Linked DNA regions of Homo sapiens: region 1 is linked to region 2. The links come from fine-mapping of genetic effects on gene expression. A gene starts in region 2. The other region holds a variant in brackets. All regions are shown on one strand. Distances are from middle to middle. Region 1 overlaps STRAP (serine/threonine kinase receptor associated protein). Region 2 holds the start of STRAP (serine/threonine kinase receptor associated protein).

Evidence for each region. PIP is the estimated chance that this variant, and not a neighbour inherited with it, causes the effect.
Region 1: its variant is fine-mapped to the expression of STRAP in whole blood (INTERVAL, PIP above 0.99).

What each region holds. Positions count from the first base shown.
Region 1 is chr12:15,898,549-15,906,887 of GRCh38, reverse strand. STRAP (serine/threonine kinase receptor associated protein) reads right to left here. Exons shown (of 10, transcript NM_007178.4): 8 at 6,835-6,984; 9 at 5,876-5,941; 10 at 3,410-3,971. The coding sequence ends at 3,910. Among named protein-coding and RNA genes, the nearest start is that of DERA, 8.6 kb to the left of the region's middle. The variant C/T (reference allele first, on the strand shown) is at 3,578.
Region 2 is chr12:15,879,224-15,887,562 of GRCh38, reverse strand. STRAP (serine/threonine kinase receptor associated protein) reads right to left here and starts at 5,176. Exons shown (of 10, transcript NM_007178.4): 1 at 4,744-5,176; 2 at 3,887-4,022. The coding sequence starts at 4,855. It overlaps LOC102724146 (a long non-coding RNA gene), which reads left to right and starts at 5,265. Exons shown (of 6, transcript XR_007063230.1): 1 at 5,265-5,783; 2 at 6,364-6,456. RefSeq lists enhancers at 5,099-5,218, 5,529-5,758 and a silencer at 7,874-8,168.

The DNA.
Region 1 (8,339 bases), 19 kb before region 2:
AAGAGAATTGAATGACCACACTCAATCCTGGCTTCCTGGAAGAAAACTCTGGATGACACTAAAATAGAGAAGTAATTGATTCATAAAAAGGTAAATTACTAATATTAGGTGGGAACTTGGGATACCATGACCTACTGGAAATTAGGACCTAGAGAGGAGACTCCAGGGGATGAATTGGATGAGAAGGCAAGTGAAAGCTGGATTCTTCCTGGGTAACTTCAGTCTCACACCGGCTGAAGCTGTACACGGGTTCACTGGAGAGGTAAGAGCTTTGTCTTGCCATGTCTGCCATGCCTGCCATGTCTCACTCTTCAGTGGAGGATGGCCTGCTACATATGAGATAACTGGAAAACAGTCTTCCTGGTCTGACATGGATTACTGGGAGAGATTAAAAAGATTTGGTGAGGGACTTGTTTCAACAACTATTGAGCACTCACAACATACCAGTCACCTTTCCAGGTAAAGGGAGACTATCAATGAAGCTGAAAAACATGCAACAAAATTTCAAATAGCGTTAACAAGTATGAATAAAATAGGACTCAGTAAGAAGTGACAAGAGATGGAATACAGACCAGCTGGAGAACTGAATGCAAAGAAAGGATCCAGCCAAGCAAAACATTAGGTAAGAGTGAACCAAGTAGCAGAAATATCAAGTGAAAAGGACTTGAGACAGAAATGAGGCCACTGTGGCTAGAGCAGGGCAAGCAAGGGAAATATGAAAAAGTCACAAAAGGTATCAAGAGCCAACTAATCATAAGAATTTCATATAATGGGAAGCCATTACAGATCTTAACAAGGAAATCACCTCATCTCTTCAAATCCTAAAGCAATTACCTTTCCTACTGTATGGAGTATGGATGGGATAAGAGCCAGACGAATGAGTAGGGGCAAGAGGGAGCAGTTATGAAGGAACTGAGAAATAAAGGTAGCCTGCCTAGGGTGGTAACAATGGAGAGGAGGCAAAGCACAGCTTCGAAGAGCCCACAGGACTTGCATATAGACATGGGCATGAGAGAGAACACAGTCAAGGATTTACATGTCTTTTAGTTTGAACAAGTAAGTATAAGTTAGTACCAGTTAGTGGAATGGGGAAAGGTTGAGGGAAACAGGTTTGATTTAAAAAATCAAGACTTACGATAGGTAAGTCTGAGTCTTATGAAAGGTTAAGATGGAGCACTCAACTATGCTGTCAAACTCTGGTGCTCAAAGAGGCAGACCAGGTAGACAACATATAAACAACGATGTAGAACCTATCAGAAGATCTTGAGTAACAGCAGATATTTTTCTTTAGACAACAGAGCTAGAAAGTGCAGCCCAGATCTGAAGTCAAGAAAAAAAAGGAGGAACTGGCAAATACAAGAGTCAGTAAGGTATAAAAAGACCCTGCCGGGCACGGTGGCTCACATCTGTAATCCCAGCACTTCGGGAAGCCGAGGCGGGTGGATCACGAGGTCAGGAGATCAAGACCATCCTGGCCAACATGGCAAAACCCCGTCTCTACTAAAAATACAAAAATTAGCTGGGCGTGGTGGTGTATGCCTGTAGTCCCAGCTACTCAGGAGGCTGAGGCAGGAGAATCGCTTGAACCTGGGAGGCAGAGGTTGCAGTAAGCTGAGATCGCACCATTGCACTCCAGCCTGGGTGACAGAGCGAGACTCCATCTCAAAAAAAAAAAAAAAAAGACCCAGGAGTGTAGTTTCATAGAAGCTAAAAAAAAAAATCAAAAACCAGGAAGTGGATGATTATTGAATGCTGCTGAAGGTTTAGTTAAGATGAGAACAGAAAAGTGACCACTACTCTTGAAAGTTTTGTTAAATTCTACTGTAGGATTCTACCATTACCAAGTGTGGTAAGCAGACTAATAACTAATGGCCCCCACAAAGATGTCTACTTCCCAATCCCCAGAACCTGTGAATATGTCATCCTATATGGCAAAAGGGACTTTTGCAGATGTGATTAAATTGAAGATCTTGAATTGGAAAGATTATCCTGGATTATTCAGGTGAGCCCGATATAATTACAAACCTCCTTATAAATAAAAGAAGGCAGCAGGAGATAGAGTCACATTCAGAATAAGAGATTAAAAAACGGACACTGCTGGACGTAAAGAAAGAGGAAGGAACCATGAGCCAGGGAATGCAGCTGGCTTCTAGAAGCTAGAAAAGGCAAGGGAACAGATTGTCCTGTAGAGCCTCTAGAAGGCTTGCAGCTCTGCTGACACCTTAATTTAAGCCCAGCAAGACCTACTGTGGACTTCTGACCTCCCTAACCGTAAGATAATAAATTTGTGTTGTCTTAAGGTACACATTTGTGGTCACTTGTTACAGCAGCAGCAGGAAACCAATACACAAAGGACTGTACCTGTACAGGGTCATTAGACTTTTATGAAACCTAAGGAGAAATTCCCTTGGTTCATAAATAACAAGCAACTTCATGATTCCAATCTGATGCGTACAGAACTTTATTGAGGGTAAATCAGACTCTGATTAGAGTCTGAGCAACTGCTGGTACAATGACAACACTGCTGCAATCCAGAGGTTCAGGCATGTAACAAGCTGACACAAAAATACTACCACTCTATGAAAGCCAATATGGATCACCAGTTGGCTCCCCTGTATTTCTCTCGGCCCTCACAGGTTGTCACAGCCTACAGTGCTTTCTTCTGGTTATCACAAATCCTCAAAAATTAATCTTATTCTTTGGTTGACTCATATTGCTTTTAAGAAAAGTTATCAAGGGTCACTCACAGGACTGATCAGGAGAAAAAGGAAGTTGCAGAGATGTTATTTATTCATCTGAAGTATTTCCAAATTACTCATTTAATATGCCCTCTTTGTTTTAAAAAATAAATTACAAGTCTAAACTCAGCTGATCCAATTTATTAGAAGGTTTTAGAAGGGCTTTCTGAATGCCACCCAAATTTAAAGAATGAGGTAAAATTCCATACTTCTTAAACCACTGCAGGACTATAGTAATCCCATTTTTATAAAATCCATTCTATCTATCTGTATATACATACAGAGATGCCCTAACATGCATTCATGGTCATTTGATTTTAATAGTTTTTTGAGGAGTGGTAGGATTTTAAGTGATCTTTCAGCTTACTGCTAAATTTCAGTTGATTTTTTTTTTCTTATAACTAGCATGTATTATTTAAATAATTGTTTAAAAAGGCATGTCAAGCACTTCTATCCAATCTGGGAATAGAGAAGGTAAATGAAACACTAGTAAAGGACATAAGAATTTCAAAAATTCAGGACAAGTAACTGAATCTCAATATTATAAAATAATGTTTACTACAGATTAATTGGCTTACCTTTTGCTATGGTTATGATACAGAAAAACCTTCTGGCTATTTCCACTTATAAAACTCACATTAGTAGTTTTTCCCCAAAAAAACCAAACATTGTTTTGTTTTAGAGGCATTTTATTTAGACAACTAAAAACAATTAGATGTTCAGAGGCAGTGTACAATGAACGAGAAATCAAACCAGTTACTTTATCATGTATTCCCTCTTCTTTACAACTGAAGCAAAAAAAGAAAAGGCATTCTGCTTTAAGATCAGAAAAAATCAGC[C/T]AATATAGTTTTCTTCTCCATATTAACATAAACAGCTACAAGAACCCTAATTGTAATAATAGAAATTGGATGTTGGCTTGTATATATTCATTAAAAAGATAACAGGCCACTGTACTATAAGAGGATAACTCCACCTCCCTTCATCTGACACTTGAGTTTTCACTTACAGGTAACACCAAGTTAGTTAGTTGTTCCAGCACTGGAGCTAATTCATTTTCCTCATTATTTACTGCTGTTTCTGCCTTAAGCAGACAGTAACTCTGGAAGGCTGATGCTTTTCTCTGCTTGCTTGTTTTAGTCAGTTGTATACTAACTGCACATATGATTGACGCTCAGGCCTTAACATCAGGAGCTGAAGGAAAGATGCAATCTGAATTCTCTGAAGCAATTTCTTCTATAAGTAAAAAAAAAAAAAAAAAAAAAAAGTCACATTAGTCAACTTAATGAAAGAAAGAAGCAAATCTACATTTCTGTGTAATGAAGGAATGAAAAAGTGTTTGTAAAGCATACTGTGGTAAGGGAAAGAAGAGAGCAACTGCACATGCCACTAACAACTAGACTCATGTCATTGAAAAGGCAAAGAAGAAAGAGTTCATGTGTTTTATCCACTAGATTCTCTTACACCATAACTCAACCTCCAAGGGTCCCTTTCTGGCCTAAATTTTCAAAGACTCCAGCTATATAACAAACCCGGAATTAAAGTCATGTCTTCGAAGGATCTGGCCCTCTCTTTTAGTGATTCAAATCCTAATATTTAGTGCTATTTAAAGCAAAACATTAACCATCAACATTGTTTTAGCAAGAAGGTGCTTAACAATAAAAAATTTAAGGAAAACTCTATTGGGTAAATGGTAAACACCTTCCCAACCTCCCCCAAAATCATCATACCCAGTTTCTCATGGCAGCAATCTGCATATTTCTTCCTCATGATACCCCCACTCATCAATCTCACAATTCTAACAAGTCTAACAAAAGACTCTCAACTCCATCTACCTTTTTCTGTTCTCATTGCAATACCCTTATTAAAAACTACATGATAGGCCGGGTGCAGTGGCTCACGCCTGTAATCCCAGCACTTTGGGAGGCCGAGGTGGGCAGATCATGAGGTCAGGAGTTCAAGACCAGCCTGATCAACATGGTGAAACCCCATCTCTACTAAAAATACAAAAATTAGCCAGGCGTGGTGGTGCACCTGTAATCCCAACTACCCAGGAGGCTTACGCAGGAGAATTGCTTGAAACCAGAGGCGGAGGCTGCAGTGAGTCGAGATCATGCCACTGCACTCCAGCCTGGGCAACAGAGCAAGACTCCATCTCAAAACAAAACAAAACCTACATGATCACTCATCTAGACTACAATGCCCCCTAACTGGTTTATGTTCACTCTTGTTCCCAGTCCAATTCTTTGTACGTGCAACAGCCAAGGCAACCTTTTTTTTTTTTTTTTTTTTGAGACAGAGTCTCTCTCTGACACCCAAGCTGGAGTGCAGTGGCGCAATCTCGGCTCGCTGCAACCTCTACCTCCTGGGTTCAAGCTACTCTCCTGCTTCAGCCTCCTAAATAGCTGGGATTACAGGTATCTGCCACCATGACCGGCTAATTTTTGTATTTTTAGTAGAGACAGGGTTTCACCATGTTGGCCAGGTTGGTCTTGAACTACCAAGGCAATCTTTTAAAGTCCTCTTCTTAAAATTCAAAGGTTTCTCATTGCTCTTAGTATAAAACTCTCCAAGTCCTAATACAGCAAATGAGGCCCTCAGATGATCTAGCTTCTCCAGCTTCACTTTGCCTTTGCTCTTTAACCTGGAGGCATGGAGAAGTTCTTTTAGTTCCTCATATGCTATGCTCCTTTTTGGTTCTGAACTTTTAGTTAACATAGTTTTCCTGCTATGAACTTTTCCATCCTGTCCCTACCAACACCCCCTCTCATGACCTCACCTAAATCATTTCTGCTCATCCTTAGTTCCCAGTTTAAATGTCACTTCTCTAGGAAGCTTTTTTTAATCCCCCTTACAATAATTTGTGTTTTGGCATGTCTCCTAAGTTAGACTCTAGCTCTGAAAGAGTAACCACATCGGTTGTGTCCATACTACATCTCTGTGCCTATTACTACTATGCAGTAGGTATTTAAATATTTAGCTTATAAATATGTATATATACATGCATAAATATTTAAAGTTTCCATTATTTAAATATGTTCATATTTAATAAATTTCTTCTGCCAATGAGTAAAACTTCTGTTACAGTTCAATTTTAAATCCCCCAAGACTCTTACAAAAGTCAATTCCATAGCATTTACCTAGCTCCTCTTCTGTTGTCTCTGGAAAACCAATCTTTGGCTTTGCCAGCTCACCACTATCTTCTTCTGTAAAAAGAAAAGCAATGACGATTATATGACTTACACTATTAAAGTAATTTCCAGTGTTCAATAAGCAAGAAGAGCAACATAAGACTATTCCAGGAAAATGGCTACAAAATATAATAAAAACAACTCCTTTTTAAATAACTGTGATTCTAAAAATAGTATGTCTTTCTTTAAAATTACTTTTAGGTTCATACTGCAACTACTTAGGGATTAGTAACTAGGTATTTTTTATTAAGAACATGTCTATCTTTATTGGTGTGGATCAGTGAGTAATACTATTCAGAGATTAGATACATTTACTTGTAAATTCTTTATATTGCCTTCCAGCAAATTTTGAATTAGATCTATTCCAGCCACAAAATGTGCTAGTATAAAAATTTAGGAACAGACTAGATTGTACAACAAATTTTTCTTTTTTTTTTTTTTGAGACTGAGTCACTCTTGCCCAGGCTGGAGTGCAGTGGCGTGATCTCAGCTCAATGCATGGCTCCTGGGTTCATGCAATTCTCGTGCCTCAGCCTCCTGAGTAGCTGGGATTACAGGCATGTACCACCACACCTGGCTAATTTTTGTATTTTTAGTAGAGATGGGGTTTCACCATGTTGGCCAGGCTGGTCTCGAACTCCTGACCCTGTGATCCGCCCGCCTCAGCCTCCCAAAGTGCTGGGATTACAGGCGTGAGCCACCGTGCCCAGCCATACCAAAAAAAATTTAAACAAAGGAACATGACCCTTTCTCTGGCCAATTTATAATCCTGGGCTTCTCGCTGCTTAAACCATAATATATAATTTAAAATTTATAGAAAACAGGAACCCTGAAATAAAATTAATGATTAAAAATGACATAAAATCATGCATTTTAAAAATTTTATTATTCTGAATAAAAATTCTTACCAGGAAGCACACATTTCCAAAGGCCATACGTTTTTCCTACCACAGTTTGCCATAGTCTCAATGTTCCATCTTCTGAACCACTGGCATAGAGTTCTCCATCAGGACTAAATCTCACACAGTGAATAGGACCAAAGTGTCCCTTGTAGGATTCTGAAAAAGAAGAGGGCTATTAGATAATTTTAACTATTAGGTTAAATATTGATATGCTAAAAAAAAAAAATACTGTCTGTGTTACTGGGGAGATGGAAAATTCTTAAGGCAAACATTAAAACCTGTACTTAATTAATTTCTCATCACAAAAGTGGTATATCATTGACCCTTTCTCTGTAAGATTATTCCTTTCCAAATCTAGCACACATTCTAGTTTCAAACTGTCCCTCTAAAAAAAGCAAATGAGGCTTCATGTCTCATTAAGGATGGAGAAAAAGAGGTAAATGAAAACCCCATTAATTCTATAGAAAGTAGATTTAAAGTCTTACCAGTTCAACCTCCAATTTCCATATCCTAAAACTCACTGCCTATTTCTCAGGGAATCAATTTTTATTATGACTATAGAGAGCCACCAGGTGGAGCTCTTTTACACACTTTGCCTCTTAATTTCCTACAGTCCACTAATTATTCTGTCACACAGAAAGGTGAGATATAGATCAACAATGATCCATAAATATTTTAATCCATGGAACCTAATGAGAAAATGTATAGATTAGGAGCACTGTTATATTCAAGTAGTACCTTTAAGTATGAACCTTTCTCATTTACTTTCTAATGCCTCATCACCTTATTAGTTCTCAAAGCCCTTTACTAGACCAATGTTCCTATTCTGTCTCCCATCTGTGTCCCACCAGAGAATAGAAAAGTTGTAAGAGTACAAAGAACACAAGGTTTTGGAAAGAGAAAGGCTAGGCAGATCTGGTATTCACTGTGACTTCAGATCTTGGGCAAATAATTCAGTTCTCTCAATCTTGAAAAAGAATAAAATATGAAACCAAAAACATTCTAAAACTTTGAAAACTAGCATTAAATAAAAGTAACAGAAAAGAATATCTTATTTATAAATCACTTGTATTCAAGTAATAAAAACTGAACCATAAGCAATTAAAATAGATTCTACATGGTCCATCACCAAGGTTCCATTTGTGCAACCCAGATGCATCAATGTTCCCCAAGAAACAAAACGTAAAATTGTCTTTTGTTCTTTGGGTGTAATCTAGCAAGCTTCGTTCTTTGGTAAAGCAGGGCAGCTAGAAACAGACAAGAACAAGAAGAGACAGCTTATAGATAAAAATATATATTTATAAAAACTAAACATATTTTTGACCTAAAAGCAAAAACTATTTGGAAAGGCTAAAAGTAGATACTGAGAACCACATGTAACTATGTGAAATACCTGGTCCATCAGATAAATATACATTAACTTCAAATTAATCCCCATGCCTTTCCCTTTCCCTTACTAAGGACTGTTATCATGAAAATGAAAGCAAAACTCAAACTCCAAAACAGAATAA
Region 2 (8,339 bases):
ATGTACTAACTCTGGCAGATTTCCATTATTCACAGTAAGAGCCCTAAAATGGATCTAATCTAAATGTTTCCTAATGTATTATTCAATCTCCAGGCAAGAAATTGACATATATTAGTTGGCCACAGGGCTCAAATCAAGACAGTAAAGCGCTATTAACAATACCCTTTCAGCAGCTAACCCTCCAACATTTTCTTCACATCCCACGAAGTACTTGTCATCTCCTTAAACTACTGTTACCTCTTATACCCCAGTTTCTTGCAAATAATAATGCTGCCTGATACTTTCCATATCCTCAGAATGAACTTACCGTAAGTCTCATAATAGGAGCTGCTTAACTTACTTATTTAAACCTTCAACAAAACAGGCCAGTTTAAGATTTTTAAAAAATTGCCCAAATACCTTAACATGTTGACCAAGTCATCTAGGAGATAATACCATTTTCGATTTATCAAGAACCTTATTAAAACTAAAATTAGATATTTCTATTGGCTTTACAAGAAAGAAAGAGTGATACATTGTGATTACCTATAAATTCCTGGACCCAATCCCAGATCTACTTAAGCCCTCTTGGGAGCACAGCACAGAATTGTCTTTACTTTGGCACTCTTCCCAAATAGATACAAAGAGATGGTGTTTTAGGGACACTGTACTCAACACTGGACTCAATTGCCCGAATTACTCCAAGATAACATTCTACACTAGTCCACAGACCTATTCTGCTAAATTTCTCCACAAGAAACGGGACCAAATTCCACTTCTAAATGACCACACCATAAATGAGTTTTCCAAGAAACGTAAGAATGGAGGGAAAAAAAAATTGTTTCTAAAAATGCTTTATACCAACCATGACTAATCAGGTAGGCTGTGGGGAGTAACTTCTTGGAGAGAATACACACACACACAAACACGCACATGAAAACACGCTCCTACACCCCACAGACAAGACATAGAGGAAATGAGGGATAAATCTCAACTAGCATTTATTGAGCACCTACTATGTGACAGAGATCATATTGGACTTCAGGGATATATGGTGGAGAAAGATCTCTCTGTTCCTCCAATAATCTCATGGGTCTTAGTCCCATTTTACAGATATGAAAGCCGACATTTAAGAAACATCCTGCCATGGTGGGCAGATCGCTTGAGCCCAAGAGTTCAAGACCAACCTGGACAACATGGTGAAGCCCATCTCTACAAAAAACACAAAGATTAGCCAAGCATGGTAGTACACGCCTGTGGTCACTATTCAGGAGGCTGAGGTTGGAGAACTGCTTGAGACTGGGAGATAGAGGCTGCAGTGAGCTATGATCACGCCACTGCACTCTAGCCTAGGCACCTAAGACCCTGTTTCAAAAAAAAAAAAAAATCCTATGATGATCAAACTGGAAATACACAGCATAGTTAGCACACGAATGCAAGCCCACCTAGTGCCAATGCTTGTTATTATTTTCCACTCTAACACAGCACCTAAAGCCTTAACTGAGGAGGGGGAAAAAAAAATCACAAAAATCTTCCTTCTTGACATTTAAATCTATTCAATCTTCCTTATATGAGGCCAAATAGTTTGAAGGCTTTAGCCATATTAGTTTCAAAATAATATGTGATTTTGATCAAGTGCGGGTGGTGATAGTTTACATGGTAGCTATCATCGTTACTTTACATATGTAACACTTTCATAGGTGTAATAGACTTCAGGCAATGTTGTAAGTATTCGAAACATATTAACTTATTTAATATTCAAAACCAACCTATGAATTAGGTACCATGACAGAAAAAAAAATGGTTAAATAAAGTGCATGAGGCCACCAATTCAAATTCAGGTCATCTGGCTCCAGCCTTCATGCTCTTAATACACCACTTGTAAACACAGACATTGAGACTTGAAATGTTAAGAAAGCATAAAAACAACACTGTTTCAATAAACAAGAGCATACAGTCACGTATCTGCCACCACAGTCAATCAGCCTTCATTTTTTCATTCTAAAATTGGTATGTTTAATGTACTTAAAATGAAGGAGGCAGCAGATTTACAATTGCTCCTTAGTGTGAGGTTGTTAAAAAAAAAAAAAAAAAAGGCCAGGCACGGTGGCTCACACCTGTAATCCCAGCACTTTGGGAGGCCAAGGCGGGCAGATCACTTGAGGTCAGGAGTTCGAGACCGGCCTGGCCAACATGGCGAAACCCCGTCTCTACTAAATATACAAAAATTAGCCAGGCGTGGTGGCGTGCACCTGTAGTCCCAGCCTCTCAGGAAGCTGAGGTGGGAGAATCACTTGAACCCGGGAGGTGGAGGTTGCAGTGAGCCGAGACTGTGCCACCGCACTCCAGCCTTGGGGACATAGCAAGACTCTGTCTTTAAAAAAAAAAAAAAAAAAAAAAAAACACCACTTGTACTCTCTAGCCTCTTAAGTCTAATAAATCTGTGTATGCACAACAGTTCTTGATATTGCCTTCATCAGTTTAAACAATGAAGTGTCAAATTCCTAAGTTACAAATACCAAGTAGGAACTGGAGATAACAAGATTTATAAAATATGATACATTCCCAAAAAGGCAACGAGGGCCACTGCAAGTCAGTTTAATAACATAATTAACCGCCAAAAGTCAGAACAGGTAAGGTATATTCTGGCAACAATAAGATTAGTATAATTAGATTGTAGGTTTATGGTGTGCAATGGCAGAGGATGATGCTGATGAACTAGGATGAAGCAAACTGTAAAGGGCCAACAATTGAAATGTGTCCTTTAGGTCAGCAATTCTATGACTGCACATCAGGAAAGAAAAGGAAGAAAGAAAAATAAAAAAACACCAATAATCAGTATGACCAGTACTCCATCCCCAGACCAATCAAACCAGAATTTCTGTACCAGGCACAGTAGTTCACCCCCGTAACCCCAGCTCTTTGAGAGGCTGAGGCATGGAGGCCAAGAGTTTAAGACAGCCTGGACAACATAGCTAGATACTGTCTGTATAGTAAAAAGTATTAAAAAATATTTTTAAATGTAGTAAAAAGTATAAAATATAAATATATAGTAAAAAAGTAAAAAAAAAAAAAAGTTTTAAAAATCCGAATTTCTGGGACTCATACCATTTGAATATTTGAAAAGCTCTCCAGATATTCTAATGTACATCAAAGGTCATGAACTACTAAAATGGCAAAGGGAAGACAGGAAGATCATTAGTAGAGAAGTGACATGATCAAGTATGTTTTTAGGAAGACAACTGGCAACAATATGGAAAATGAATAGGAGGAAAAGAAACTACTGAAAGTTAAAAATGATCCTGAACTAAGGCAGCCACAGTTACTACATGAAGGAACATTGGAGTCAGGAGACATCCCGCTGGCAGAATCAAAAAAGATGATGATAATCTAGATATAAGGGAAAATCAAGAATGCTTTAGATTTCAACCTTTAAAAACTTAGGAAATGACGAGCAGCTGAGTTTTGTTTTTTTGTTGTTTTTTTGTTTGTTTGTTTTTGACACAATGAGTTTTAATGATGCCTAAAGCCAGTTAACAAAAACCGGGATTGAAATAAAAACCTAGGGCCATCAATGTAGGATATCACTAAGGAGTACACACAGAGCAGCATTCGTAAAGGAGATCAACATTCATTATCTGGTGCGTTTGTTAATGCAGATTCCTGAGTCTCAATCAAAATATACGGAATAAGTCATTTAGGCCTCTGAAAATTTTGAGAACCACTGAAGACAAAGAAGCACACAGGACCACGATGGACCACGATGGAATTTTGGTGGGATCAAACATGCGTTCTGTATGGCAGCCAGTGAGTCAGAATTTTATGAATATCTGACACTGAAGTTTTTGATTATTTCAGGACACAAGCTACAGAGAACACCAAAGTTAGCCATCTTGGCTACACTTACGCTGTGAAATCTGCAGCTGCTGTAGCTGCTTTGGTGGCATCCTTATTCAGTGTTGCACCCCAAACAGCACCTTTATGACCCAAAAATGTTCCAATCCAGTCTCCTGTATCTCCCTGGCGTAGCATAGGTTTACCATCTAGAAAATATTTTTTAAAACATGTAATTTATAAGTTCAGATTACTTAAAGTCTAAGATTCAAATGTAAATATACAATGATGTTCAATGACAAAGTGGAAAAATTGTTTCAGCTATTTAACTACCACCACCCACTGAAGGCACTAAGGAATGTGCAGTAATAAATTAACTGAAGAGCTGAACAGATCATTCTCTCTGAAAAGCATCTGTAATTGGCTGGGAATACTGATCTGCGTCAAAACAATCTAGATTTTAGTCTTATTTTGGACAGACATCTTAGCCTGAATCTCAGTTTCCCATTTGAAAAATGAGGCTAATACCACAAAGGAATATCCAGTGAGACAAGAGCGAACGTCTTTGTAAGGTATTGCACGGCCTGGCCTAATTTCTCCTTTCCCCAAATCCTTGAAAGCTATTTACCGTGTTGTCCCGAGAGTCTAGGCAAATGCTGACCAGCTCCTTCAAAAATAGCAATAAAAATAAAATAAGGAGAGAGGTCTTAGTTGGAGGTAATAGTTTCTACAAAAGCGTCCTCTCGGCTCCAGCTGCGGATTCCCTAACACACTCCTTTCTCCACCGGACCAGTGTTGGCTCTCATCTCAGATGTTAATATCGCCCCCTCCCCCCTCACCACACCACCGCTTCGGCACTGGAGCGTGCGGGTCCCGATCCCTTTCAGCCCAGTCCCAGCCGTCGAGGACCAGGATTGCGGCCTTGCTCACCTTTGCAAGCGCTGATTAAGAAATACCCATAAGGCGTGATGCCACTGAAGGCCAAATCAACCACGGGTCGCGTGTGGCCAGAGCAGGTGAGCGGCGTCTGTCTCATTGCCATGGCGGCGGCGAAGCCAGCGACCGGACTGGCGAGCTGAGGGTCGTCGTTGTCTTTTCTCTCTTCTGCTGCAGTGCCTCGGGCTGCTCCAGGCCCCCGCCCTGACACTAGGGCTGGGCTGGGCAACAGGAAAAGAAGGGCAATCCGGTGGCACCGAGGTTAGGGAGGGGTGAGGGAGGGGTCAGGGAGTCTGCGACCAGCAAGCAACAGTCGACGAGGGAGGGAAAGGGAGGGAGGGAGGAAAGTAGGGGATGGGGAGAAGCGGAGAACCGGGCCAGCCACGATTCACAGCGTCCACACCGGCATCGGCAGGAAGTGACGACGTAAATGACGCAGAGCACCCGCCGGAAATGACGATTGGCGGGAGGGCGGGCTCGCCGGGTAGAAGTGACTTGAAGAAAGAGCGAGAAGTATAGAAGGGCGCAGGCGCTAGTTCAGTGCTCGTGAGGTAACTGGCGCTGGCCCACGCCGACTAAGGGAGACGCTCTAGGCACCGGGATGGGGTCCCTGTCCCCGAGCTCTAGCGGGTCAGAACGCCTTCCTGGTCCGCGGCCGAGTTGAAAGTTGTTCCCACTCCCATAAGTCCAAGGACCAGCGTCAGCTGTGTACCTGCCGAGCAGCCCTACTGAGGACTGTGCTCGGCCTCTGAATATCTAGACGGACACGAGCCATACCCAGTGACGGCCCAAACCAGCGAACGCTGTCTGGCAACGTTTTTTGCAATTTGTCTTATTTAAAAACCATATACGGGCTTGGAGTGGTGGTGCCTGTGGTCCCACCTACTTGGAAGGCTGAGGTGGGAGGATAACTCGAGCCCGAGAGGTCGACACCGCAGTAAGCGGTGCTCGCGCCACCGCACTCCAGCCTGGGCAACAGAGCGAGACCATGTATTAAAAAAAAAAAAAAAATCCCCAGTCATTTCTTCCGCTGTGTAAGTTTTCCTATGTTGCTAATGTTTTAGGAGTGGATACTATATAGTTTTAAATGCGATTAAATTCAAGTTACTTTTTCCTTGGTGGACTTCGGAGAACTCTAGAGTCGTAGATCCCCAATTTTTTTGATGAAATACTCTCATCCGTAAAGTGAGCCTTCACTCATTTTATAAGCGAATGAATGCTGAATTCTATCAAAAACTTTTACACCTTTTGATATGATGTATATATGAGTGATGATTTGCAAATTACATAGATGTGCATTATAATACATGGACAAAAATAGAAATATTAAAATAATATTTAAATATAAACAAACTCTGATATTGTCTGCAGCAGGCAGCCCACTGTGGCTCTGTGAAACCACCAGAGCTGTTAATTGTTGATACTGTTTCCTAACCAGGAGAGGGCTTTTCTCTGGGCAAGTTGTATCTTTATTGATAGAATGTAAACCCAATACAACAGAGATTTTTGTGTTTTCTTTGCTACTTTATCCCCAAGGTCAAAACGTCTGGGCACATAGCAATAAATATGTAATCAACATAAATGTCTGTGAATGTTTTCTTCATCTTTTTGCAGCAAACACCGTCTACAAGATTCGAGTCAAACAACGTGAGAACTTGAAATACGTCTCCATTCTTTTTCCTTAGTACTCTCGTTCATTCACTTACGGTAAAGCACTTACTATATATGTTTTTCATTTTATCTTGTTCGACTCCTCCTTTGTGCCATCCTCTCCCTTTTGTCTCACACATACGCACCACTCACACATTTATGAACTCCTTAATGGCAATGGTTATGGCTTTGTCATTTGTACTCTAGTGCCAGAAAAGTGAATGGCATTTAGTGAATACTCAGCATGACTGTTTACTGATTAAATAGATTGTTGCATTACTGATGGAGGTAAATAAAAGACCCACTCAAAATGACACAACTGGTCAGATACTGATACATGTTCATTTATTGCTCATTGTGTGTAGATAAGAATATAATTGGTAAGTTATGGTACATACTTGGCTCTAAAGAATGTATTATTTCCTGCTCATTTGGATTCTGAGTTCTAAGAGTATTGTGTATTATGACCAATTGGGTAGGCTTCAAGGTCAATTTAATATTAGAAGACAGGTTAATGTAATTGATATAATTAACAATATTAAAAGATTAAAGAAAATCATATCAAAAGATGTGTAAGAAGTTTTTGATAGAATTCAGCATTCTTTCACTTATAAGAATTCTGAGACACTAGAAATAGAAGGGACTTTTTTAACCTCATAGAATATCTGAAACCCCACACCTAATGGTGAAATACAGAAAGCATTCTGTATTAGATTAGGTACGAGACAGATGATTGCTACTGCCTCTTCAATACAGCATCGTACTAGATGTTCAGGTAACTTAAAAATGCATAAATCTTCCAAAGAAAGTTGTAAATCTGTGATTAGAAATTGTTTTAGAGGTTATATACAAAGAAAAGAGGCAAGGTGTGGTGGCTCATGCCTGTAATTCCAGTTCCCAGTACTTTGGGTGGCTGAGATGGGAGGATCACTCCAGCCCAGGAGTTCAAGACCAGTCTGGGCAACAAAGTGAGACCCAGGCTCTACAAAAAAATAAAAAAATTAGCCAGGCATGGTGGTACACTACTGTGATCCCAGCTACACGGGACACTGAGGCAGGAGGATCGCTTGAGCCCAGAAGTTCATGGCTGCAATAAGCCCAATTTCTGCCACTGCACTGCAGCCTGGACAATGAGGTAAGACCATGTCTCAAAAGAAAAAAATAAAAATAAAAATTATTGGAATTAATGAGAGAATTTAGAAAGGTTACTGAAGTTGTTTTTTTCTTTTTTTAGAAGAGATGAAGTCTCACTATGTTACCCAGGCTGGGTGCGATGCCTAGGTTACTGGGTTTTGTTGTTGTTGTTGTTGTTGTTTTAAGTGTAATGAAGAAATCACATTTCTATACATTAGCAACAACAAAAAATGTAATTTTAAAATATGCCATGTTAAATAGCATCAAGAATTATAAAGTACATAGGAATAAAAAAACAAAGTGTACTCCCCAGCAGAAAAAAAACTGGCACGCTGAAATGTAGAAGTTGAGAGCAGTGTAATGAAGGGATTAGTTACAGAAGTGTGGCCAGGATCAAAAGTAAACAACAAGGAGAAAATAGGGCACTAACCATAGATCTGAATGAGAAACTGAAAGGGAGCAGTTATCTGAACCTGATTTATTTGAGAAAGGTACGGTTGCAGGAGAAGGCTCTGGGCGAGAGCTGGAATAATCAGTAGAAGAACACAACTGCTCCCAATTATCATCAGCACAGCCATGGGGAAGAAGTGGGGAAATGAATATCTACTTTTAGATCTCCCATGCTTCCCATTGGTCAAACCCAGCCAGAGCCCAGAAGACAAGGGAGCCCTTTAATGGGGTCCATAAATGTCAACCTTCTAGGACTTAAACCATAGTACAAAAAGGAGAAAAGGGGATCTCGTTAAATAAAGGAATACCCAACATGATGTTCAATATTATTTAATGCCTCTCAGCAAAATGTATCG